2 separate regions of the Homo sapiens genome follow, and region 2 is linked to region 1. The links come from fine-mapping of genetic effects on gene expression. A gene starts in region 1. The other region holds a variant in brackets. All regions are shown on one strand. Distances are from middle to middle.

Region 1 (11,403 bases):
GAAACCTTGCCACATTTAGCAGACTTAGGAATCCAGATGGGAGAAGGAAGGAATGTTTCAATTGAAATAAATGTAATACAGGCAAAAAACAATTGAAACATCCAGACTTACATTAATTTGTTTTTTTTCAACAAGGATATACTTTAGATTACATTTTTTCATAAAATGAGTTGATAATGACGGTGGTGAATCTGGCTCGATAGGTACATAAGCAGCCGGGACTTGGAGAATTCTAAAGAAAAAAGTACACAGTCAGCATAGAATGTCTGTTGATTTAGTATTTGTTTAAGCATTTCTATTTCTCTATGCACTTTATTTATTTTTTGTAGCAGCATAAAAATGGTTTCCGGAGCACTTTATTGCTGATCAGAAATTTCCAATGTTTTCACTGACACATAGTTGGTAATAAACGCTGTCATTTTAGCCGGGCACGGTGGCTCACGCCTGTAATCCCAGCACTTTGGGAGGTTGAGGCGAGCGAATCACCTGAGGTCGGGAGTTGGAGACCAGCCTGACCAACATGGAGAAACCCTGTCTCTACTAAAAATACAAAATCAGCCGGGCGTCTGCAATCCCAGCTACTTGGGAGGTTGAAGCAGGAGAATTGCTTGAACCCGGGAGGCGGAGGTTGCGGTGAGCCGAGATCACGCCGTTGCACTCCAGCCTGGGCAATAAGAGTGAAACTTCATCTCAAAAATAAATAAATACATAAACACTGTCATTTTATCTTTTCTTAATGAAAATCCTGAGTATTTACTATGTTAAATTCTTATCACTTAATATAGAGAAATACAAGATTTTTTTAAAGTTAAGCATTTTAAGTAGTTTCAGGTATACTTTAAGGACACTAGATCTTTGCACATAGTAAATTCTCAATAAATTTCGTCAATAATTGAGTGAAAGTAAATTTTTGTTGTTGTTTTTATTTGTTTTATAGAGATGGGGTCTTGTGAAGTCACCAGGGTGGTCTCGAACTCCTGGCCTTAAATAATACTCCAGCCTCAGCCTCTCAAAGTGCTGGGATTTACAGGTGTGAGCCACTGTGCCTGGCCAAAAGTAAATTTTTGAACATCTTTTGCTTTATATTTATATAATTAATTTACTAAGACACATATTATAGAATGAATAAACTATTTCTTTGGCAGTTTATACTTACTGCAGAGTTCTAGAATAGAAATCACTATATGAGGATAACATTCTAGAACAATTTAAATGATTGAACATTTTGCAAATATTTGTTGGAATAGTGTCTTCTAATGGGTTCATATTTCAATCTATATCAACTATTATCCAAAACTCTAATTTACTGATTTATTGAATACCTTAGTGCCTCAAATTTCAGTTGCGGACAAAAAACATAGTCATGTTATCTGTGAAATCCTGTTTTCTTTTATCTAACAACAAAGTGTTATAAATTGTTATAATTGTTTTCCTTTAACAGATTAATGAAGCCCTTACATTTTGGAGATACTTATACGTTCTATTAGTGAAAGCTTCTAGTCTTTCCTAAATAAGCTCAGAATAATTAATTTAAATAATATAAAAATAATACTGGGGAAATGCAAACTTCTTTAGTCTCTCTACAATTGACCAAACAATATAGAAAAGTCCAATAGTAAACAGAACAATAACTTGCAATATACTCTATTAAAAATTTACATTAGCTTGGAGTAACATCAAATTTACAGTTCTAAAAAATATTACCCTAAAATCCAAGAGGGTAAGTCTATCCCAGGTTGGCAGTAGAGACCAATTTCCCGAATTCCTTGAAAGTCACAGTGTAACAGCAGAAAATTTGATAATTCAGAAGCAGCATTAACCACAGTCTTGTAGGTGTAGTAAACTGGAAGCTGGTTGTTGCATTCATCAAAACATACAGCTACTCTGTCCATATAACAGGAGGCAGCCTTATGCACCAATTCCTGAAGAGTCATTTCACTGAAGTTTATCTAAACATCAATTTGTAGCACAGAACCCTGTGTATATACAGAAGTGTTAGGGGGAGAGGGAGTTTTAGAGAGCTCGGTGGAGGGACAGGGAAAAACTTCTCTACAATAATATCTCACAAAAATAATTATATCAAAGATATATAAATGAAGAATCTCTGAACTTATGAAATTATGGTAACTTTACTGAGGACAATGAGGTTGAAAATTAACTTGATACATCAACCTATGCTGGGTCAGAGCATCAAAAAAATTTGGGAGGGCAGTGGTATACACAGATGAAAATGAAGCAGGTAAAAATGGAGACTTCTCTCTCAACGGACCACAATGTAAATATGAAATATATAAAAAATTAATCAATAAAATCAAATTTAAAGGACCCCACACTTAATTTTTTTTTACTTTCCTTCAGTAACTGTTACAGATTTGTTAAGATAGAGTAGTCAAAATCTTGTATGGTGACTTTAAAATTACTAATGTGGCCGGGTGCGGTGGCTCACACCTGTAATCCCAGCACTTCGGGAGGCCGAGGTGGGTGGATCACTTGAGGTCAGGAGTTCAAGATCAGCCTGGCCAACATGGTGAAACCCTGTCTCTACTAAAAATACAAAAATTAGCCGGGCAAGGTGGCATACACCTGTAATCCCAGCTACTCTGGAGGGTGAGGCAGGCGAATCACTTGAACCCAGGAGGCAGAGGTTGCAGTGAGCCAAGACGGCACCACTGCACTCCAGCCTGGGTGACAGGGCAAGACCCCATCTCAAAATAAATAAGTAAATGAAATAAAGATAAAATAAAATGACTAATGTAAATAAACTTTGCTTTTAAATTCCAGTAGGAGCTAAACTCAGATGAAAGCAAAATCAATCTTTGACAGAAGAAAGCAAAAAACCCTATTCCTATTCATTCAGTTCTAGACAACTATATATAAAAACAGTGTTTATTACTATACTATTAATATTTTACAGAAGTCATACTTGTATAATTGTCAAGAAGTAAACTCTTCATACTGTATAGTTTATTTTTAAATTGCCAATAAGTTCACTTAGACTGAAAATATAATATTACAACTCAATAAAGCAGTATATCAATGCAATGTTCTCTGGGTTTCTTAATGCAGATTATATTAAAAGATTCGAAACAGTATTTCAAGAAAGAAACACTCGGGATCAACGGTAAAAAAAATTCACAGTGTTTCCTTAAAGGTGAAAGTTATTTTTTTCCCTCTCTGAACTCTGTTTTCCATATTTTAAAGCAATTAAGACTTACCAAGTAGCCTGCTTCAGTAAAGTTTTTGTTTGTTTTTGTGACAGTCTCGCTCTGTTCCCCAGGCTGGAATGCAATGGCGTGATCTCGGCTCACTGCAACCTCTGCCTCCCAGATTCAAGCGATTCTCCCACCTCAAGCTCCCGAGTAGCTGGGATTACAAGTGCGCGCTACCATGTCCAACTAATTTTTGTTTTTGTTATTTTTTTTTAAGTAGACACAGGGTTTCTCCATGTTGGCCAGGTTGGTTTTGAACTCCTGACCTAAGTGATCCACCTACCTTGGCCTCCCAAAATGTTAGGATTACAGGCGGAGCCACCGCGCCCGGCCGAGTCAAGTTTTCTTTTCTTTCTTTTTTTTTTTTTAATTTATTCACACCTATTTGAATTGATTTCCTGACTCAAAATTTTCATTTATATCAACTAATTAACATCAATTAGGAAAAAGAAATCCTAAAGAGAGTAAAATGAACCAATAACTGCCAAGACCCATAAGTTTGAAAATGCTGTGATTTCTAAATATACAGTTTAAACATATAAGGCAACTTTAGTACTTACATTATTTATTTTTAGTAGGCATTTCTATAAATATTAGCTCTTTTTAATGCACAAGATACAATTTTAAGCTTTCCTCAGACATACAATGATCATTATGTAAATATAAGGGAGGCTTTCTGCAGCAGGCGCTTAAATTATGAGGAATGAGTTCATTTCGCAACATACAGGTAGCGCAGAAGGGTACCTACACATCTATACGATAATTAAGATGTTTCTTTCCATTTTCCCAATGGTTGCTACAGACATTTAAGGTAAAATCCATTCTTCTTGTCTCAGGTTTTCATTTTCATTCATTGAATCACAAATAACATTCTCTGCAGTAGAGAATACTAAACTTATTAATGCCCAAATGTTTGAGACCTTAAAAAGGAAAAAAAGGCCGGGCGCGGTGGCTCACGCCTGTAATCCCAGCACTTTGGGAGGCCGAGGCGGGTGGATCATGAGGTCAGGAGATCGAGACCATCCTGGCTAACAAGGTGAAACCCCGTCTCTACTAAAAATACAAAAAATTAGCCGGGCGCGGTGGCGGGCGCCTGTAGTCCCAGCTACTCGGGAGGCTGAGGCAGGAGAATGGCGTCAACCCGGGAAGCGGAGCTTGCAGTGAGCCGAGATTGCGCCACTGCAGTCCGCAGTCCGGCCTGGGCGACAGAGCGAGACTCCGTCTCAAAAAAAAAAAAAAAAAAAAAAAGGAAAAAAAAAAGCAAACTCTGGTAAGCAGATTTTACATGTAAAAGGAATAAATTTACTTGCTACAACTGTAGAAGCTGCTATTTAGTCAACAAAGATCTTAAGAGTGTCAGCAAATTCAATTGCTATGGGGCCTCTCTCTAGGCCACTGGCTGTTTTAAAAATGGATAAATAATCTAGAAACTTTATTTTCCCAATTCCCCGGCTTCTAAATTTACGGTATGCAACGAGTAACAATGCAATTTACAGCTTCCTAAACATTTCTTCATTGCTCTTCGAAACCACTCTAGGGGGTAGCTGAGCGCGGAGCACACTTATTTCCATTTGAATGGAGGGGCGGAGGCTAGTGACGCAGGAGTGTACACACAGGTCAGGGTTAGTCTGCACCACACCAGCACGCCAGACCCCGATGTATCAAATCCGAGGTCAGGCAGTGGTCCTGAAGCTGAGCAAATGTATGTGGAAGCAGGCTCAGGCCTAGCGGCACTTCGCCTCCTTCACACAGACCCCCGCCGGACACCGCGCCCTGCCGCGACTCACTTAGCAAGTCTCGCGGATTAGGTTTGATCGCATTCGGCCCTTTCCCGGATAGCTCGTCGCGGATACTTCTCACAGCGAAGCAGCAGCTCCCAGAAGCCGTAAAGCTATCCCAGAGCGAGGCACCATACGTAAATCTTCCGCGTCGCTACGTGACGTCAGTGCGAGCGACCCCGGGCCGGCTGCGTGGAGCTGGCGCTGCCTCTCCTGAAGCCGAGGCGCTAACTTGAGTGAAGAGGTCTATAGGCTTTTTCACTTTTGGTTATCTGCTCAGGCGCTCCTTGGGGTCGCGCATGGTCTCGGACAGGGTTTGCAAGGACTTCGGAGCTAACCAGTTTGGAGCCATAACCCTTTCGTACTTGCCAAAAAACTCTGGGCAAGACTCTTGAATTTTGAGCCGCAGTATTCTCGTTCATAAGGTGAGAATAAAAACATCACCTAGGGTTGATGTGAAGAGAGATGAAATCATTGTGAAATAGGAGAGTTATTGCTTTCAACCAATGACATTTTCTGGAAACGTGCTGGAGATATGGCTGCAGCAGTGACGCCTGCAAACGACGTTCCTGTCATCATGATGCTGACATTTTAATTGGGAAGCAGATTGAAACGATAACTAAGGAATTTGACAGGAGCATTTAGTAGGACCTGTAAAGAAATTAAAGCAGGTCCGAGGTGGAGTTTTGTAAACTATATGCCTGAATAGAACTTTCTGTTTCCAAGGGAATTGTTACAGTTGGAGACATGTCAATTATTACAATAAGCGTCAAGGGCAATAACAGAGGTGTTTTAAAGCTACTGTCTGGTGGCAGAATAATCGGGATTTTTTTGTTTGGGGGGTTTTAGCCGGGGGAGGGACTGCGAAGACAGCTCTGCATCAAAACAGTACGTGAGAAAAAAGCATAGGACGCTCTCGCAGCCGTAGTTGTTGGTGACAAGAAACTGTGCTTCTAATCTAAGCAAAAAATATCTCCACATGCCAACTATACTTTTCCAAGATGTACCATGGACTACTCAAACTAACACAGCCTTATTTATGTATTTAGGTTGGAAGTGGGCAAAAGTGTATCTTGTCTATGTTTCTATGTTTCTACGTTGGGATGACACCATCATCCACCCAGCCAGACAGTTATCAACCTTCCCACTTTCTTAACCTCTTACATCCGATTAGACCCTATGTCCTCTAGTTCTCAGTCTTGAGACCAGCACCCAGCTGGCTACATCAGAATTGCCGGTGGTGATGTTTTAGAAGATTCCAAATTCCTGGACTCCATCCCCGGAGGTTCATCCCCTAGTTTTCTAGTGAGGGGCCTAGAACCTGCGTTTTTTAAGTGTCATGTTCATCGCCATTACTGCTACTTTAGTTCAGGTCTTCTTGGTCAGCTTTTTCCTAAAACGTTTTCAGTTTTGTTTGCCTCTGATTGACTCTGAATTGCTGCCAAAATGATGTTTTATTATTCCAGTATCATCATCCAACTCTCTGATATTAATGATACCTTTTTTAAAGTTTTTCTTCCCTTGCAGTATCTATTTCCCTCAAGTTTCCTTTTTTTTTCTTCTGTTGATTTTGTGCTCTATCTTTCACATTAGAGGCTTTCCTAGGATGTCTGGTGGTCCTTATCTGCTCATATGTAAGTGGGGGTATATTTAAAAGTTGATTGGAAGCTGTTGAGCCCATGGGACGTTTGTTGAAAATCAAGTGGGAGAGGAGGGGTATGGAGGCTGCGGTATGTCTCAGAATTTAGTACAATTTTCACTTAATTCTCTTTGTTTTAGGTGCCTGATGTCCTCCATTACAGAGACCCCGTTTTACTCCTGAGCAATAAAAAAAGGCTTCAGAATAAGGCGGGGGCCGGGGGTGGCATAAAGGATATAACACTCTCCTAAATGAACTTCCAGTCCTTTTAGGTACCCTCTTCACTTCTACTTCCTGAAGCCAGTTTCTTAGTTTTTTAGGGGGTTCTGTGATACAAATAGAATTGCTTGTTGGTTTTGCTCACTGGGGGTTTAGAATTCAGGTTTTTCAAGTCAACTGAGCCCTTTGCTATTGATTCCAGAATTTCATTTCCATTATTCCTTTTCTTTAATCCTTAAGGGTGTATGACTTTAAAAATCCTGTTACTGTCATTTTCAGGGAGTCTTAGGGAGCAAATGTAGAACACTATGTTTAAGACAGCATTTTTACCTGATAATCCAAGGTGATCATTCTAAAACATATACCAGATCAGTCATAGCATTCTTCTATGAGAATAAGAAGCTTCAATGATCCCTCGTTGCCTGCATAACATTCAGACTCTTCAGCAAGGTAAACAAGAGAGTTCATTTTCTTTCCAACCTGATATCTCACAGCAGGCCACTGCTCCCCCACCCATCTTCCACATTCCCCACACCTGATACTGTAAACTCTAGTCATAATGAAAGGCTAGTAAGAGTTCTGAGAATACAAAGTCCTTATCATGTTTCCACACCTGTTTTGGCTGGGCTCAGGCTGAAATACCCTTCTTTCTCCATGCCTGCTTGATGAAAATACAGCTTAAACATGACTTCCTCAGTGATGCCTTTCTTCAAGCCCTAAAGAATAATTTATCCAGACTCCTCCAAACTCCATCCCACGAACCCATCATACTCTTGGGAGGGGTCATTTGTCATGGGACCTGCAAATTCTGGGTTTGCCAAGAATGTAAGGTCCTAACTGCTCTTTACCTAGATCATTTTTCAGGGTTGTTTGGGATGATCAGTTTCATAGCTGAAGTATTCTTCCCAAAGAGTAGGCTTGCTTCCACTTAACTACAAAAGTATGGAATCCCCCAAACTCAGTATTCCTCTCCTATAATGTAACCCACTGACTGCATGTGCAGACATCCATGGAAGCCCATCTTCACCATCCTGGTGGGACTTGGGGGACATGGAAAATGCATAAACATGAAGTTCTGGCTTCTGCTTTTGCCATAAATTACAAAGTTCTTTGTCACCCAGGAATCCAAGTTTACTGCCATAAAACAGTTAACAGGCTATCTTACTAACTTTAAAATAGGTTTCAATACCAGACCCTTCCCAGACAGCGACATATATTTCTTACAGCATCAGTTGTTACTGTTGCTGCATTATTTCCAAATCTGACCTCCTATACTAAATAGCACCCTTATAGCAGGGATTCATGTCTTAGGCGCTTGTTTCCCAAACTATTTTTTTTTTTACTCAGCTCCATCCACTTACACTGTTCCAGTTGCAGGGAAATATCAAATGCCCACCCTGTACCCTGCTGATATTTTGTACCTTGACTGGCACACTCTACTTATTTTAAGGCTTATCTCTCAGTTGTCAATGTCATTGTTTCCTTAAAAAGTTCAAAAATAATTTGGAAAATCCTTGACCCTACCTGAAACAAGGTTAGGTCCTCCTGTTATGTGCTGTTGTACCACATATCACAGTTGGGATAATAAGGCATTGTGTGAGTTACTCTAAGTGTTCAGCTGCTCAGGAGAAGGCAGAGAGCAAATTAGTGGTTGAGTTTTTCAGGCTTGGTGTTTTGACAGGTGTATTAGTCTGTTCTCACATTGCTTTAAGTAAATATCTGAGACTGGGTAATTTATAAAGAAAAGAGGTTTAATTGACTCGGTTCCACATGGCTGGGGAGCCCTCAGGAAACTTAAAATCATGGTGGAAGGCACCTCTTCACAGGGCACGAGGAAAGAATATGTAACTATGGAAGTACACTGGAAGGCCAGGAGTGGTGGTGGCTCACACCTGTAATCCCAGCACTTTGGGAGGCCGAGGCAGGTGGATCACGAGGTCAAGAAATCAAGACCATCCTGGCCAATACAGTGAAACCGTCTCTTTGAAAAATATAAAAATTAATTTGGCATGGTGACACACGCCTGTAGTCCCAGCTACTCTGGAGGCTGAGGCAGGAGAATCACTTGAACCCAGGAGGTGGAGGTTGCAGTGAACCGAGATTGCGCCACTGCACTCCAGCCTGGTGACGAAGTGAGACTCCATCTCAAAAAATAAATAAATAAATAAAAATAAACCTCACTGTTTGTTTTAACAATAACAAGCGTGGTAAGGGTGGTGTCAGTCCATAAGTTAGATAGGCAGTTGCTAGGCAGATGTCGTTGCAGAAGTATGTGTGTGTGTGTGTGTGTTGTGTTTAAGGTTGTGGTGGCCTTTGTGCAGGTTGTAAATTTTTGTAGTCTTTTGATAGTTCTTGTTATCAACCATATGTACATGAGAACCCTTCCCCTTCATGGCGTTTCCTGGCTCCGTTTGCCAGGGTTTTAATACGAGTGACTCCATTTTGAATCTGACAACTTTCACATTTCCCCTTTTGATCAAGGTCTTTCTCAAAAGCATCACTGATCAATCATCCTGTATTTAGGTTTTGATATCTCTTGGTGCCAGTCTGCCCTCATGTTGAAGGGAGTCACTGGTAACTAGGAATTAGCATCAAAACCCTTTAGCCACATTTGAACAACAAAAGAGGTTTGGAGGGAGTGGATCTCAGGCTAAGTCTACCTGGAGTCCACTGTTAAGTTCAATTCTGTCTGTTCCATAGGCACTGTCTATCATCTCAAAGTGCTGGGAGAGCATTATTCTCTTAGGAGTTGCATTTCTATGCAAATTTGACAAGAAACAGGTATAAAGTTCTTAAAAAAAAAAAAAAGAAAATACAAAGTAACAATCTCAGCATAATAGTTTTCAGCCGTGAACCTAGGCTTAAAGACAACCAGTTGAATAAATCAAATGATCATGAAGAATTAGGTGAGACTTATTATACCATGTGGGCTATTTTCTTATTTTGTGTATATAAATTCCCCAAAGGAATGTATCCAGGTACAGCATGTAGTATGAGCAAAAGCACAGACATCTCTTTGTTTAGCTGGTACACAGCAATCCTATTACTTAGCATTCCATGACTGGCTTGAATTAAAGCAGAGAGAGCTAACTCTGTTTTAAAAAAGACCATTAGTACAATTTGAACAAAAAGTTTACTGAGGATGTTGCCAGTATTACCCCCTGGGTGGACTAAAGGATTTATGAAGTCAGATTCTGTCAAGTCACCCACAATATCTACCGATTGTGAAATTATCCTGCCAAATCAAAGAGGTAGGCATAAACAAGGAAGAATTAAGAGGGGCAAGAGTGTCATTAGGATGGGGAGTTATGTTCCATCATCTTGGGAAAAGCTGCCCACAGTATGGAGATGTTAGCTTTTCATTCTGGTTTACAGTTTTAATGTCTCTGGTTATAGCATTGGGCAGTTTTGTGAACCTTTGGGCATGAGATTTCTCCCTTAAAATTCAGTTAAGTTTGAGCTTGGGCTTTAAGAACATAGCAAGTCTCGTTTTTAGTAATTCTATGGAAGAAAGTTGGATTGGAGGAACCTAGAAGAATTAAAGATCCAGTCCAGCGACCAAGGTTTACCTAGTTGCACAGAAATTTTCTTAACACTGGCAGGTGCCCTACTAGTAATCTTTCTTGTCTGTGACCAGTTTATCCTTAACATGGGAGACTTTTTCTTTGGATACCTTCAATATTTTCAGAGTGGTATTTTCAGAGTGGTGCCTTTCACTTAGTTAATATGCATTTATGTTCCTTCTGTCATTTAATGGCTTGATTGCTCATTTCTTTTAAGCACTGAATAATATTCTATTGTCTGAATGTACTACAGTTTATCTATTCATTTACCTACCCACCCTGACACTTTGAATCTAATCCTGCTCTTCCATGACACTCCCTCTTTCCCCATAGTGCTTCCTAGGAACTTGCCACGATGTAGTGCTTACTTAGTACTGCTTTTCTAATTACTTAATTTGTCCCTCATAGTCAACCAGCAGTTTTGCCTGGTTCATAAGAGATGGCCTATTTATTGAAATGCCTGGATCAGAGAAATAAGATATGACTAGCTGGTGCCAAGAATGGAGCCTGGAAGTTGTCTCCATGCTGTTTACCATAAAGCACTAACTAAAGTCACTATTTAAAAAAAAAAAAAAAAGGACACACATATTTAAACATACTTATTACACATATTTATCAACAAGGCATCACAAATAAGTCACAAAAAGTAGGCTTAGTTTAGTTCACAATATAAATCCCGTGAAAACACATTTTTCATCTCTGCAGTTTATAATACTCTACGTATATGAATTTAAAGCAGTTAAACAACATTTGAGATTAAATTGGTAAAAAAAAATTGTAATTGAATTCAGACTTCAGAAAATTGTGAAGTAAAAGGCCATGATGGAGAAATATTAAGAATCTGTAGAATTACTAAACTGTCACAGTATTATTTTCCTTTACAAAAGCATCTCAGTAAAACAAAAACTACAGAAAACGCAAAGTAAAATCAGAGATTTTGGTTTAGTACTTTCCCTGAGTCTCTTGTTTTAAAAATCAAAGTAAGGCCAGTTCAA
Region 2 (11,403 bases), 38 kb after region 1:
AAGTCCAAACATGAAATTCATATGTGTTTCATATATATAGCTTAAAGCTAATTTTATGCAATATTCTTAATAATTTTGTGCATGAAACAAAGTTTTGACTATACCCATCACATGAGGTCAAGTGTATAATTTTCCACATGTAGCATCATGTTGGTGCTCAAAAAGTTTCAAATTTTGTAGCATTTCAGATTTCATATTAGGGATGCTCAACCTGTATTGAGAATGTTCAGTACCATAAGAGGAATATTATATATGTAAGTTAAATAGGTTTCATTACATGCTATTTGACAAGCTAGCTGAATTTATTATGAAACAGATTTAGTATACATTTGATCTTCCCCAGAATAGAAACAGTACAGTTATACAAAAAGGAGGAAATAAAACTGGATTCCCAGAATAAAGTTTAAAATAGATCAATTTTAATAAAGCAAATATGCAACCCCAGATGGCAGAAGTTAAAGTAAATTTTCATACTAATTGTGGTAAAATTGAGTAAAATAGAAAAAGGGCATTGAAGAACTTAGAAAAATATAAAATACATGAGACTTTCTTAGAAGTAGTACATTTCTCTGAGACCCATCATAAATGTCTTTAAAGTATATTTAAACCAAAGGATTGAGATACAGTACATACACACTAAGACATGATAGCATGAAATAAACTGAATGAGTTCTAGACCAGGATTCAGGAAATCAAAGTTGTAAGGCTCTGTGGAAGCTTGAAGTAACCAAGTGTCTTCTCTAGACCAGGGGTCCCCAACACCTGGACCCTTACTGGTCCGTGGCCTGTTACGAACTGGGTTGCACAGCAGGAGGTGAGTGGTGGGCGAGCCAAGCTTCATCTGTATTTACAGACACTCCCCATCATGCACATTATGACCTGAGCTCCGCGACTCCTGTCAGATCAACGGCAACATTAGATTCTCACATTAGATTAGAACACTGGAGCACGAAGACTGTTGTGAACTGTGCAGGCAAGGGATCTAGGTTGTGTGCTCCTTATGAGAATCTAATGCCTGATGATCTGTCATTGTCTCCCATCACTCCCAGATGGGACCATGTAGTTGCAGGAAAACAAGCTCCGGGCTCCCACTGATTCTAGATTATGGTGAGTTGTTTAATTATTTCATTATATATTACAACGTAATAATAACAGAAATAAAGTGCACAATAAATGTAATGCACTTGAATCCTCCCAAAACCATGGCCCCCTCACCCCCTGGTCCATGGAAAAATTGTCTTCCGTGAAACCAGTCCCTGGTGCCAAAAGGTTGGAGACCGCTGCTGTAGACCTAACTCCAAAATTGGGGGGTGTGGACAAGATGGTCTTAAAGACCTCTACTAACCACAGTGTCTCCGGATTTTATTATCTGGCTTAAATGATGAGTCCCAATTGTAAGACAGTCTGCGTCTAGGGAAGAGAGGGGAACCACAGACAGTTAAGACTGGAAATGTTGGTGAGAAATCTCAAAATATTTCGCTGGTGGACAAGAAAGAAACTGGTATGCTAGAGAACTATACATCTCCCCCAGTTAGATGACTACAGATAAAGCAGCCCAACAGCAGTGGCATGATATCTTCATACAGTCATTGCTGGAGATGCAGCTAAAGATGATTCCATTAGTTATGTCAGAAGACTTAGTTAGAGACTCAGATACATACCCAATATCTATAGTGACAAAAAGATGCTTAAGGGTAGGGAATCTAACTAATCATATTTAATATTAGGGTCCCTTTAAAAAGGAAAATACTGCATTAGAGTTTAAAACACAATTCTGGGCCAGGCGTTGTGGCTCATGCCTCTAATCCCAGCACTTTGGGAAGCCAAGGTGGGTGGATCACTTGAGGCAGGAGTTTGAGACCAGCCTGGCCAACATGGTGAAACCCCATCTCTACTAAAAAATACACAAAAAATTAGCTAGGTGTGGTGGCACATGCCTGTAATCCCAGCTACTCGGGAGGCTGAGGAATGAGAATCCTTGGAACCTGGGAGGCAGAGGTTGCAGTAAGCCAAAATCGTACCACTGAACCACAGCCTGAGCAACAGAGTGAGACTCTGCCTCAAAAACAAATAAATAATCTAAATAAATAAAACACGATCCTGAAGTAAATTTAAAAAGCCAATATATATCCCCTTATGTTCATACAGTCATTGCTGGAGATGTAGCTGAAGATGATTCAGTCAGTAATAAGTCAGAAGACATAGGAGATACAGATAAAAAACAAGGTCTTGACACACATAAAATAATATTCTGGTTTTTTTTTTTTGTACGTGTGTGTGTGTGTGTGTGTGTGTGTGTGTGTGTGACAAAGTATATACATAAAATGCTATTATAAGACACTGCTATGGCCTGAACTGTGTTCCTCCCACCAATATTCATATATTGAAGCCTTAACCCCCAATGTGATGTATTTGGAGACAGGGCCTTTGAATGATAACTAGCTTTAGATGAGGTCATGAGAGTGGTGCCCTCATAATGGGTTTTAGATTTTATATCTATATATTAATAGACGCTACCATACCTAAGAAATTATGTTATAACATTATATGAAGTACTGTTGGATCATAACTCAAAACACATAAATGAAAGGTGGAAATAATTAATGGAAGCAATGTTCCCCATCGCTGTTTTTCTCCAAGTGTAGCAGCATCAGCATTAACTGAGAACTTACTCAAAATGCAAATTCTTGGGCCCCATCCAGAATCAGAAACTCTGGTGTTGGGGCCTAGCAATCTGTTTTAACAAGTCTTCCAGGTTATAATGATGCAAGCAAGTTTGAGAATCATTACCCTCTGGTATAGGGCACTAAGGGTTTGGAGGTGAGATTTTGTGCTTGCTACCTGATAGTTTGCCTCTTCTACACAAACCAAAACTGGGGAGGAGGAGATCACCAAGCCCCCAAGCTGAAGTATATCTGTTAAAAAGACCTTGTACCTAGTCTGTCAGTCCAAAGCTTCATATAACTTCACAAAGTGTAAAGCTCAATGTTAATTTAACAAACTAGTTAATCAAATTTCCTATACTCCTGGCAAACTTATTTCTCTGGTTTATCAGACAGGACAGATTCTTAGGTTTCCATAGGCATCACAGCTATGGCCTTTGTCATTAAGAGTTAAAAATCAAATTATGCCAGGTGCAGTTGGCACATGCCTATAATCCCAGCTTCTTGGGATGCTAAGATTGAAGCATGACTTAAGCCCAGGAGTTTGAATCCAGCCTGGGCAACACAGCAAGAACCCATCTCTAAAAATAAAAAATAAAATTTTAAAAAATAAGAAAATCAGATTACTGCATTGTTTAATAAGGAAAAAAGATTTCCATCTAAAAAGTTAAGAGCTTTAGTATTCAGAAGATTTTAGCTTGTTAGTCCTCTGGAAAACTTACTTAAGTACAACCTCAAGATAATTTTTTACATGTAGAAGAAAAAGATTAAGTCAAAAGTACAAGTTTTTTTTTTTGTTTGGCATGTTTGCATGCCAAATATGAAATATTTGGAATATATTTAGAAAATGTGAAACAGGACAAATGCATAGTCATCCTAGAGATTATATTATTTTAAACTGTCACATGAAAATTCAAAGCAAAGATATAAACCCACAAGGATCTCAGCAGCTAAATACGTAAGAAAAAAACTTAAACAGGCAAGGATTTTAGGTACACCTGCAATATATACCTACTGATTCACAAATTGCCACTCCGCTCTTAGGAAGAATGTAATAGAACGTAGTATTGAGGTATAAAAATATGAATTATTTATCTTCAGGGAAAAAAATTCACATGAAATAGTCTTTCTTTAAAACAACAACAAAGTGATGGGTATTTACATGTAAAAACAGAGGTCACTTCATTTTTATTTTTTGTATTTCACTGATGAATTTTTGAAATTGGAGTTGCTATTATTAATAATAGCTCCATATTGTTAACTTTGATATCTGGCCAAAAAACCAGTCCCCCAAAAGTATTCTCTTTCCTATCTTAAATGTATGCTATAAGCCATAAGCTTTTCTTTACTTCAAATGAAAATCCAGCTACAGCTGTAGACCCCTTGGATTCTGAGTATCTAGAGTGGTTCCCAATTTGGAACTTCTGAAGGTTTTGATCTAGCAGGTTGGAGTCAGTTCAGGCACCCGTATTTTTAGACGGTTCTCAAGCATAGCCAGCACTGGAAACCGTAGCTAGGTTATCATGCTCAGACCAGCAGAGGACTGATTCACACAGAAGTTTCAATTTGATTCCATTCAGGGAAGAAAAATTTGCTAATGCCGATAGATTATCACTTAAAAATTAATGACTAATGGAATATGAAGGAAATCAATCACGGAGAAGAATCATAGACTGCTCAGGCTATTCCTATTATGTTAAGTAAAAAGAAGTGGCCCATGAAAATTGAATAAACTAGATCTTTGGATCTAAAACATATTTTATTTTTCTCCCTGGTCTGAAGCATAAGCGAGAGAGGATAAAAGGAATCAAGAAGTTATCAAAGGAGAAAGGACTCTGCCAAAAGAGAAAATTTGTGTTTGACAATCTTATCACCTACCTGTCTCTTCTGAGTAGGAGAAACAAAATTGACTTAATTCCGCTCCAATATCAGCTGCCATTTATATGAGCTGGTATGCCTTATTATCTATGTATTCCCGCAAGCCACTGCTTTCTGGTATAGGACAGTCACAGTTAAACCTATTTTAGGTCAGAGGGGTGGAGTCAAGCATACTTAAATAAGCATAGAAGTTTCATGGTAGTAAAATATATCCTATTAGAGGAGGTCACGCTGATCTTCAGCCTAAAAATCACAAGTGAAATACCTCAATGTTCATCTAAGAATAACCCTAGAAATGCCCATTTTTCTTTTGGTTGTAGCAAAACATATTTCCAAAATTCAAAAAGTTCACAATGAGATGGCCAGCAGGGGGCATTAAGGAATCTACTGTTACCATCTCAAAGGGTACGCTAAGAATTATGTTTTCTTCTAATTCATTTATCTCTTCCAAAAGAAAGAAATTGGAAGTAATTTTCCTTAAACCTGGAATATTTAAACACTTTTGTATATTTTACATGCATTATAATTTGTATAATCTTAGCAGTAAAATTATTACATAAATTAATGCACTTTAGTCATATGAAACACAATACTGAGAACTTTTCATTTTAATCCAATAGTACATCCAGATAGAGAAGAACTTATTACTAAAACTTCAGAAAACCGAAGACTTACAAATGTGAAAAAAGAAAGCTCAGACATAGGTATGCTGCTAATCTTAAATACAGGCAACTTGTTTATTATGAAGTCATGATTTTTCTAATTTGTACTGTTGGTAATATTTTAATAAACTTTTAAGAAGCTGTGGCATAATAAAGAATATATCTAGTTTTGGTCTCCTGTTCCTGGCACAAAGCATCAACAACCTTTGGAACTTCCAGAGACAGAGGCATCTTTGTTGTGTTAATGAGGCTACTCTAGGTGGGTTCCCAGATAGCTTCAGGATAGGGGGTAGTCACCGAAAAAGACCGACCATGTGATGAGGGTTGGAGCTTTGTGCCAGTGTGACCTCCATGAAGGAGAGTGGGGCTGGAGGTTGAGTTCCATCTTGCAGCCAATGACTTAATCAATCACATCATAAAAACTCTGGCTTAGAGGAAGATTTGGAAGCTCCGTACAATGCAGTTCATGTTTCCTTAGTTCCTTTATAACTTCCCACAGACATCACTGCATTAACCTCTACACTTGACTTGTCTTTACTTTTCTATTCTCAAACCTCAGCAACTTTTCTGAGATGTGATTTACATACAATCAAATTCACCCAACTAAAGCGTATAACTGTGGTTTTTAGTATATCCACAGTTATACAATAATCACCAGTATCCCATTTTAGAACATTTTGATCACCCCACAAAGAAATCCCGTATCTGCCAGGCACGGTGGCTAACGCCTGTAATCCCAACACTGTGGGAGGCCAAGGCAGGCAGAACACGAGGTCAAGAGATCAAGACCATCCTGGCCAACATGGTGAAACCCCATCTCTACTAAAAATACAAAAATTAGCTGGGCGTGGTGGCCGCGCACCTGTGGTCTCAGCTACTCGGGAGGCTGAGGCAGGAGAATCACTTGAACCCAGGAGGCGGAGGTTGCAGTGAGCCGTGGTCACACCACTGCACTCCAGCCTGGGCGACTGAGCAAGACTCTGTCTCAAAAAAAAAAAAGAAAGAAACCCCATATCCATCAGTAGTTTAACTGCTTGACCACACCTCTGTAACCCCTGACAACCACTAACCAACTTTCTGTTTCTAAGAATTTGCCTATTCTGGACATGAGTGGTACCCTCCAATATACATTTTTGTGTCTGGCTTCTTTTGTTTCACGGTTCATCCACGTTGTAGCATATATCAGTATTTCATTCCTTTTTATGGCTGAATAATATTCCAATTTACAGATATACCATATTTTGTTTTCCCACTTATCAACTGACAGACATTTGGGTCACTGCCATTTTCTGGCTCCTATGAATACTGTTGCTATGAACATTCTGGTACAATTTTTTTCCCATTTTGGTAAAATATACATAAAATATTTACCATTATACCCATAAGTACGTTCACGTTGTTGTGCAAACATCACCACTCTCCATCTCCAGAGCTTTTTCATCATTCCAAACTGAAACTTCTGTAGCCATTAAACAATAACTCCTCCATCCCAACTC[T/G]CCTTAGCCTGTGGTGACCACTATTCTCCTTTCCATCTTTGTGAATTTGACTATTCTAGGTACCTCATATAAGTGGAATCATACAATATTCGTCCATTTGTGCCTGGCTTATTTCACTTATAATATCTTTAGGGCTCCTCCATGTTGTAGCATTTATCAGAATTTCCTTCATTTTAATATTCCATTGTATGGATACACCATTTTGTTTATTCATCCATCGATGGTTATCTGGGTTGTTTCTGCCTTTCGGCTATTATCAATAACTCTGCTATGAATGTGGATGTATAAATATCTGCTTGAGTCCCTGCTTTCAATTCTTTTGGGTATATACCCAGAAGCGAAATTGTTGATCATATGGTAATTTGTGTTTAATTTTTTTAGGACCTGCAGTACTGTTTTTCCACAGCATGTATATGTTTTTATGTGAACATGTTTTCAGTTCTTCTGGGTTTATATGTAGGAGTGGAATTGCTTGGTCATATGGCATATGCTGAAAGTTTCTGAGGAACTACCTGTTTTCCACCATGACTTCACCATTTTACATTTCTATCACCATCTTTTAAAAATTATATCCAACAAGAGTGATTTAAACACATTTTCAAATTTCCATGAGGCACTAGGCATGGTGGTAGGCACCTGTAGTGCCAGCTACTTGGGAGGCTGAGGCAGGAGGATCGCTTGAGCTCAGGAGGTCCACGCCAGCCTCGGCAACATAGTGAGACCCTGTCTCTTAAAAAAAAAAAAAAAAAATTCATAAGGCTGAAAAATTATTCAGAATTAAAACCTAGGAGAATTTAAGATGAGAGGAACTCACTGTTAGAAAGCATTGTGGAGTATGCCTTCCCCCTGTCACCCCCTGCTGCACATCATCACCCCAAAATAATACTGGGTCCACTGCAGGGTCTAAATTGGTAAATTTTAAATGTCATTTTGATATATGAAGTCTAACAGAGAAGATCTCTATTGTGTATTACCTAAAATGCTTCCTTATACCTGAGTTGGTAGAGAATACAGTAGAGAAAGAAGGAAAATGTCTATGCCCACTTCTCACTAAAAGAAATTTAGTAAACACTGGGACTTTCCATATTCACAAATATCCAGTGAAGATCACCTATGATGAAAAGCAGCTAAATTTTCTCACTAATAATGAGAACAGTCTGTCTTATAATTTTTAGAATATACTGTTTGAATATGGACACAAAATTTCTTTTGACTCATATTGAAGTTATTATTGTATTCTTGGTACTTTATGCCATCACAGTTGCTTTAAGTGAATGATAATCAAATACAAGATTTATCTATGTTTGAATAATTATAAATCATGTTGATTTGTAGGTAATCCTTTAGAAGATGCTAAAAGTCATTTACAGATTATAACAGTGAGTAACACAGAGGCCGGAAAATACTGGTGTGACAGTGAGGTCAGAGCATTGATATGGTCTGATGAAAAAATTAAGCGAATGCTTGAAGGGGCCACAAGAAACAAGAAAATATTTGAGGAAATTGCCAGAAGATTAATTAATGCAGTTTGGGATAGACAGAGACCGGAAACAATGTCATACGAAATATAAAAATGTAAAATATGAATATAGCATTTTACAAAGAAAAAATGGCAACCCTCCAAGAAAAATGAGATTTTATGAAGAAGTTGACTGCATCCTAAGAAAACCAACTCTCAGAACTGCCAAATGGAGACATGGTAACTTTGGAATTGACATTAACAAAAAAAATTCTAGACATTCCTCTTTGCATTTTCATTTAGCAAGAGAAAAACTCTTTAAAAATGAAATCCTTACACTATTGTATGCTCAAATGACCCTTAAAAATCATTAAAAATAGGTACCTAATTTAAGCCAAGAGTTTCAACTTTTTTCTAAACCTTGTACCAAAATATTCCTAATTCTTAACTCATTCTTTATTTGTCCATCTGCTTAAGTTTTCTTATTTTAGTATACCTGAATGCTTGAAAACCATTAATGTGTTTCAAATGATGTCACATAATGATTCTTTTCCTGTGTTTTTATTTAAGAATTATTTGAAGGTCACAACAAAAGCCAAGGAACTTTGAGCTTCAAGAGAAAAGCACATGAAGATGGTAAGAGCCAGAGAAATAACAAGTTCTTCCACACAGTGGAAACAACTTGTTGCTTTTTCCTGATAACAGAGATATTTATTCCTGTCCTTGATAAATTAGACTAAATATATTGTTTATGAACTGTATTAGAGCAGAGAATGCTGAGAAATAATTTATTTCATAGCTCACTGAGTGAAAGTTCCTGCAGGAGCTAGAGTTTATATTTTAAAAGAAGAAGAAAGAAAAAAGAGTGAGAGTAACACTGAAAGTAAATGAAAACTTGCCCGGAGTTAGGTAACTGTTTGGTTATCATGGTCCTTTAAATTGTACTTTACAGTGATTGTTGCAATTATTGTTATCAGATGTAAAAAGAAAAAAATCCACAGTTCTTCAAAGGTAGTCAATAATCAATATAACATTTTAATAAGTCTGAAAGTCAAACTCAGAAGCCAACCTAATAATGGGAGCTGTAATTCCAAAATGACCCATCACAGACATCAGAAAAGATAATATAATGCAATATAGCATGTAGAAGAAAGAAAATGCACATAAGACTAATAAGAAAACCTGAGCTCCAGTCTCTCTTTGACCCTAATTCCTAAACACAGAGCAAATCACTGCATCTCTCTGGATCTCTAAAATAATCCAGCTTTAATGCCTTATAGATTTATAATTTATGAGATTGTTTTTTAGTTAACACAAAAAATTGAAGAGTAAAACAAAATTTTACAAAGTAGACACACCAAATCCACCATTCAGGACATAAAACTTACTAGCACCCTAAAAGCCTCCCAGTCATTAATCATCCTTCCGCCCCCATAAACATTATCACTATTCTCACTTCTATCACCATAGATTAGTTTGGGATTCATACTATATGTACTTTTCTTTCATTCAACATTGTTTATGAGATTCACCCATGACTTTACTCACAACAGTAGTCTGTTATTTTTTATTACTGTAGAATAGTCCATTGTAAAAATATACATCCCAGCCAGGTGCAGTGGCTCAGGTCTATAATTCCAGCACTGCCTTGGAGGCCAAGGCAGGAGGATCACTTGAACTCAGGAGTTCAAGACCAGTCTGGGCAACATAGTGAAACCCCCCATCTCAATATTTACTTAATAAATAAACGTATATCCCATTACTTTTTAAAATCTATTTCACTGTTGGACATTTCAGCTGTTTCCAGATTGGGGCTTTTTTGAAAAATTGCATGTCTCTCAATGGACATATGTATGCATTTCTGTTGAATACATACCCAGAAGTGGAAGGCAGGGTCATAGGGCATGCATATATCCAAGCACTGTTCTAAGCACTTTACATATATTAACATATTTAGTCCCAATCACAATCCTATAAGGTAGGTGCTATTATTATACCCAATGTACAGATGAGGAAACTGAGGCATAGAGAAGTCTACGCTCCTGAACCAATAAGGTCTCTGCGAGGGCAGGGACCACATCTGCCCTGTATGGTAAAGTATTCCCAGTGTCTACCACAGTGCCTTAGTAATATACTTAGATGTACATTATTCCTATTTGTTGAGCTTCTGCTCAACAAATACATTTTGAATAAAGTATTAGCAAATAGCAAGAATTCCTTTTCCCCTTATAACCTTTTATCTCAAGTGAACTGAAAAGTGTATTTTTCTATGTCTGGATATAAATGCAAGTCAGATAAAACTCTTGTGCGGTTAACCCTTAGCAGTTTCTCCTTTCAGGTTAAACTGCTAAGGGTTAACCGCACAAGAGTATCATTCTGAACCCACTGAATTTGAACATTAGACCTTACAATATATAAGTCTAGGCCAACAGATGAGGAAACAGACTCAGAAGTTAGAAGACTTGCCCAAGATTAAACTGATGTTACTGGAAAACCTGGGGCTAGATTTCAGTTTGTATGTTAAGGAGCTCTTCCCAATATTGACCAGAATGACCAAGCAGTGGTACTTGGAGACTTTTGGGGGCAGGTAAATTCTGCTTCAGACTAATGCAAAAAGCTAAGTTCTAAAAAAAAAAGTTATAAATGGAAGGATTGAAAACACTTATTTTAAAGCAAGAATCACTGAATTATAAAATAACTAAAATCAAAGACTGGAACAATTTGCAAGGACACTTAAAATAAGTCACTCCCTCAAACCAAAATTTACTTGACTCAGATAAAGGTTATAGATTATGGGAGTATAAAAGTTAAACACTATAGGAATGTTACATATTTGATCATTTTCAGTCAAATATGAAAATCAAAATTAAGTAAGATATTCCCTGCCTTAATTTGGCAGCCCAAAGTAAGTTCTCTGACAATCAAATCCTGTGTTCTCCACAAAACTAAATGAAGATTAACTGGGAACTAGATCCATATAAGTCTGACTGAGTGCATCTCTCATTCTCACAAGTGCCTTTCCAGTGGTAATGTTCTGTACTCTGTTTGCAGAACCAGTGTCTAAATCTCTTAAGAAAAGTGCTCCTGAGATCATTACAAATCAGTTTCCTCAAAGCGTAATAACAGAACCAAAAGATTCTACAGAATGTTTCTGCAGACAGAAAACCCAACTTCATCAGGTAAATCTTATAAATTTTTAGAAGTATGAAAATGTTTGTCATTGTAAGGTTCAATTCCTAACCAGG

Which allele goes with the higher level. Positions count from the first base shown, and alleles are read on the strand shown. Sizes are in standard deviations (SD) of each study's normalised expression.
For the expression in visceral fat of the gene that starts at base 5,126 in region 1, allele T in region 2 goes with a higher level than allele G (small effect, 0.27 SD a copy in GTEx).

Evidence for each region. PIP is the estimated chance that this variant, and not a neighbour inherited with it, causes the effect. A credible set is the group of variants that fine-mapping cannot tell apart.
Region 2: its variant is the best candidate, but not a certain one, in a credible set for the expression of AASDH in visceral fat (GTEx, PIP 0.50).

Annotation. Positions count from the first base shown.
Region 1 is chr4:56,382,366-56,393,768 of GRCh38, forward strand. It overlaps AASDH (aminoadipate-semialdehyde dehydrogenase), which reads right to left and starts at 5,126. Exons shown (of 15, transcript NM_181806.4): 1 at 4,997-5,126; 2 at 1,705-1,976; 3 at 112-232. The coding sequence starts at 1,934. It overlaps PPAT (phosphoribosyl pyrophosphate amidotransferase), which reads right to left. Exons shown (of 11, transcript NM_002703.5): 11 at 10,997-11,403. RefSeq lists enhancers at 4,544-5,051, 5,021-5,390, 5,052-5,558, 5,421-5,470.
Region 2 is chr4:56,420,212-56,431,614 of GRCh38, forward strand. All of the region lies in intron 1 of PPAT (phosphoribosyl pyrophosphate amidotransferase), which reads right to left. It also overlaps a transcript of PAICS not described here. Among named protein-coding and RNA genes, the nearest start is that of PPAT, 9.7 kb to the right of the region's middle. RefSeq lists an enhancer at 5,192-5,877. The variant T/G (reference allele first, on the strand shown) is at 6,700.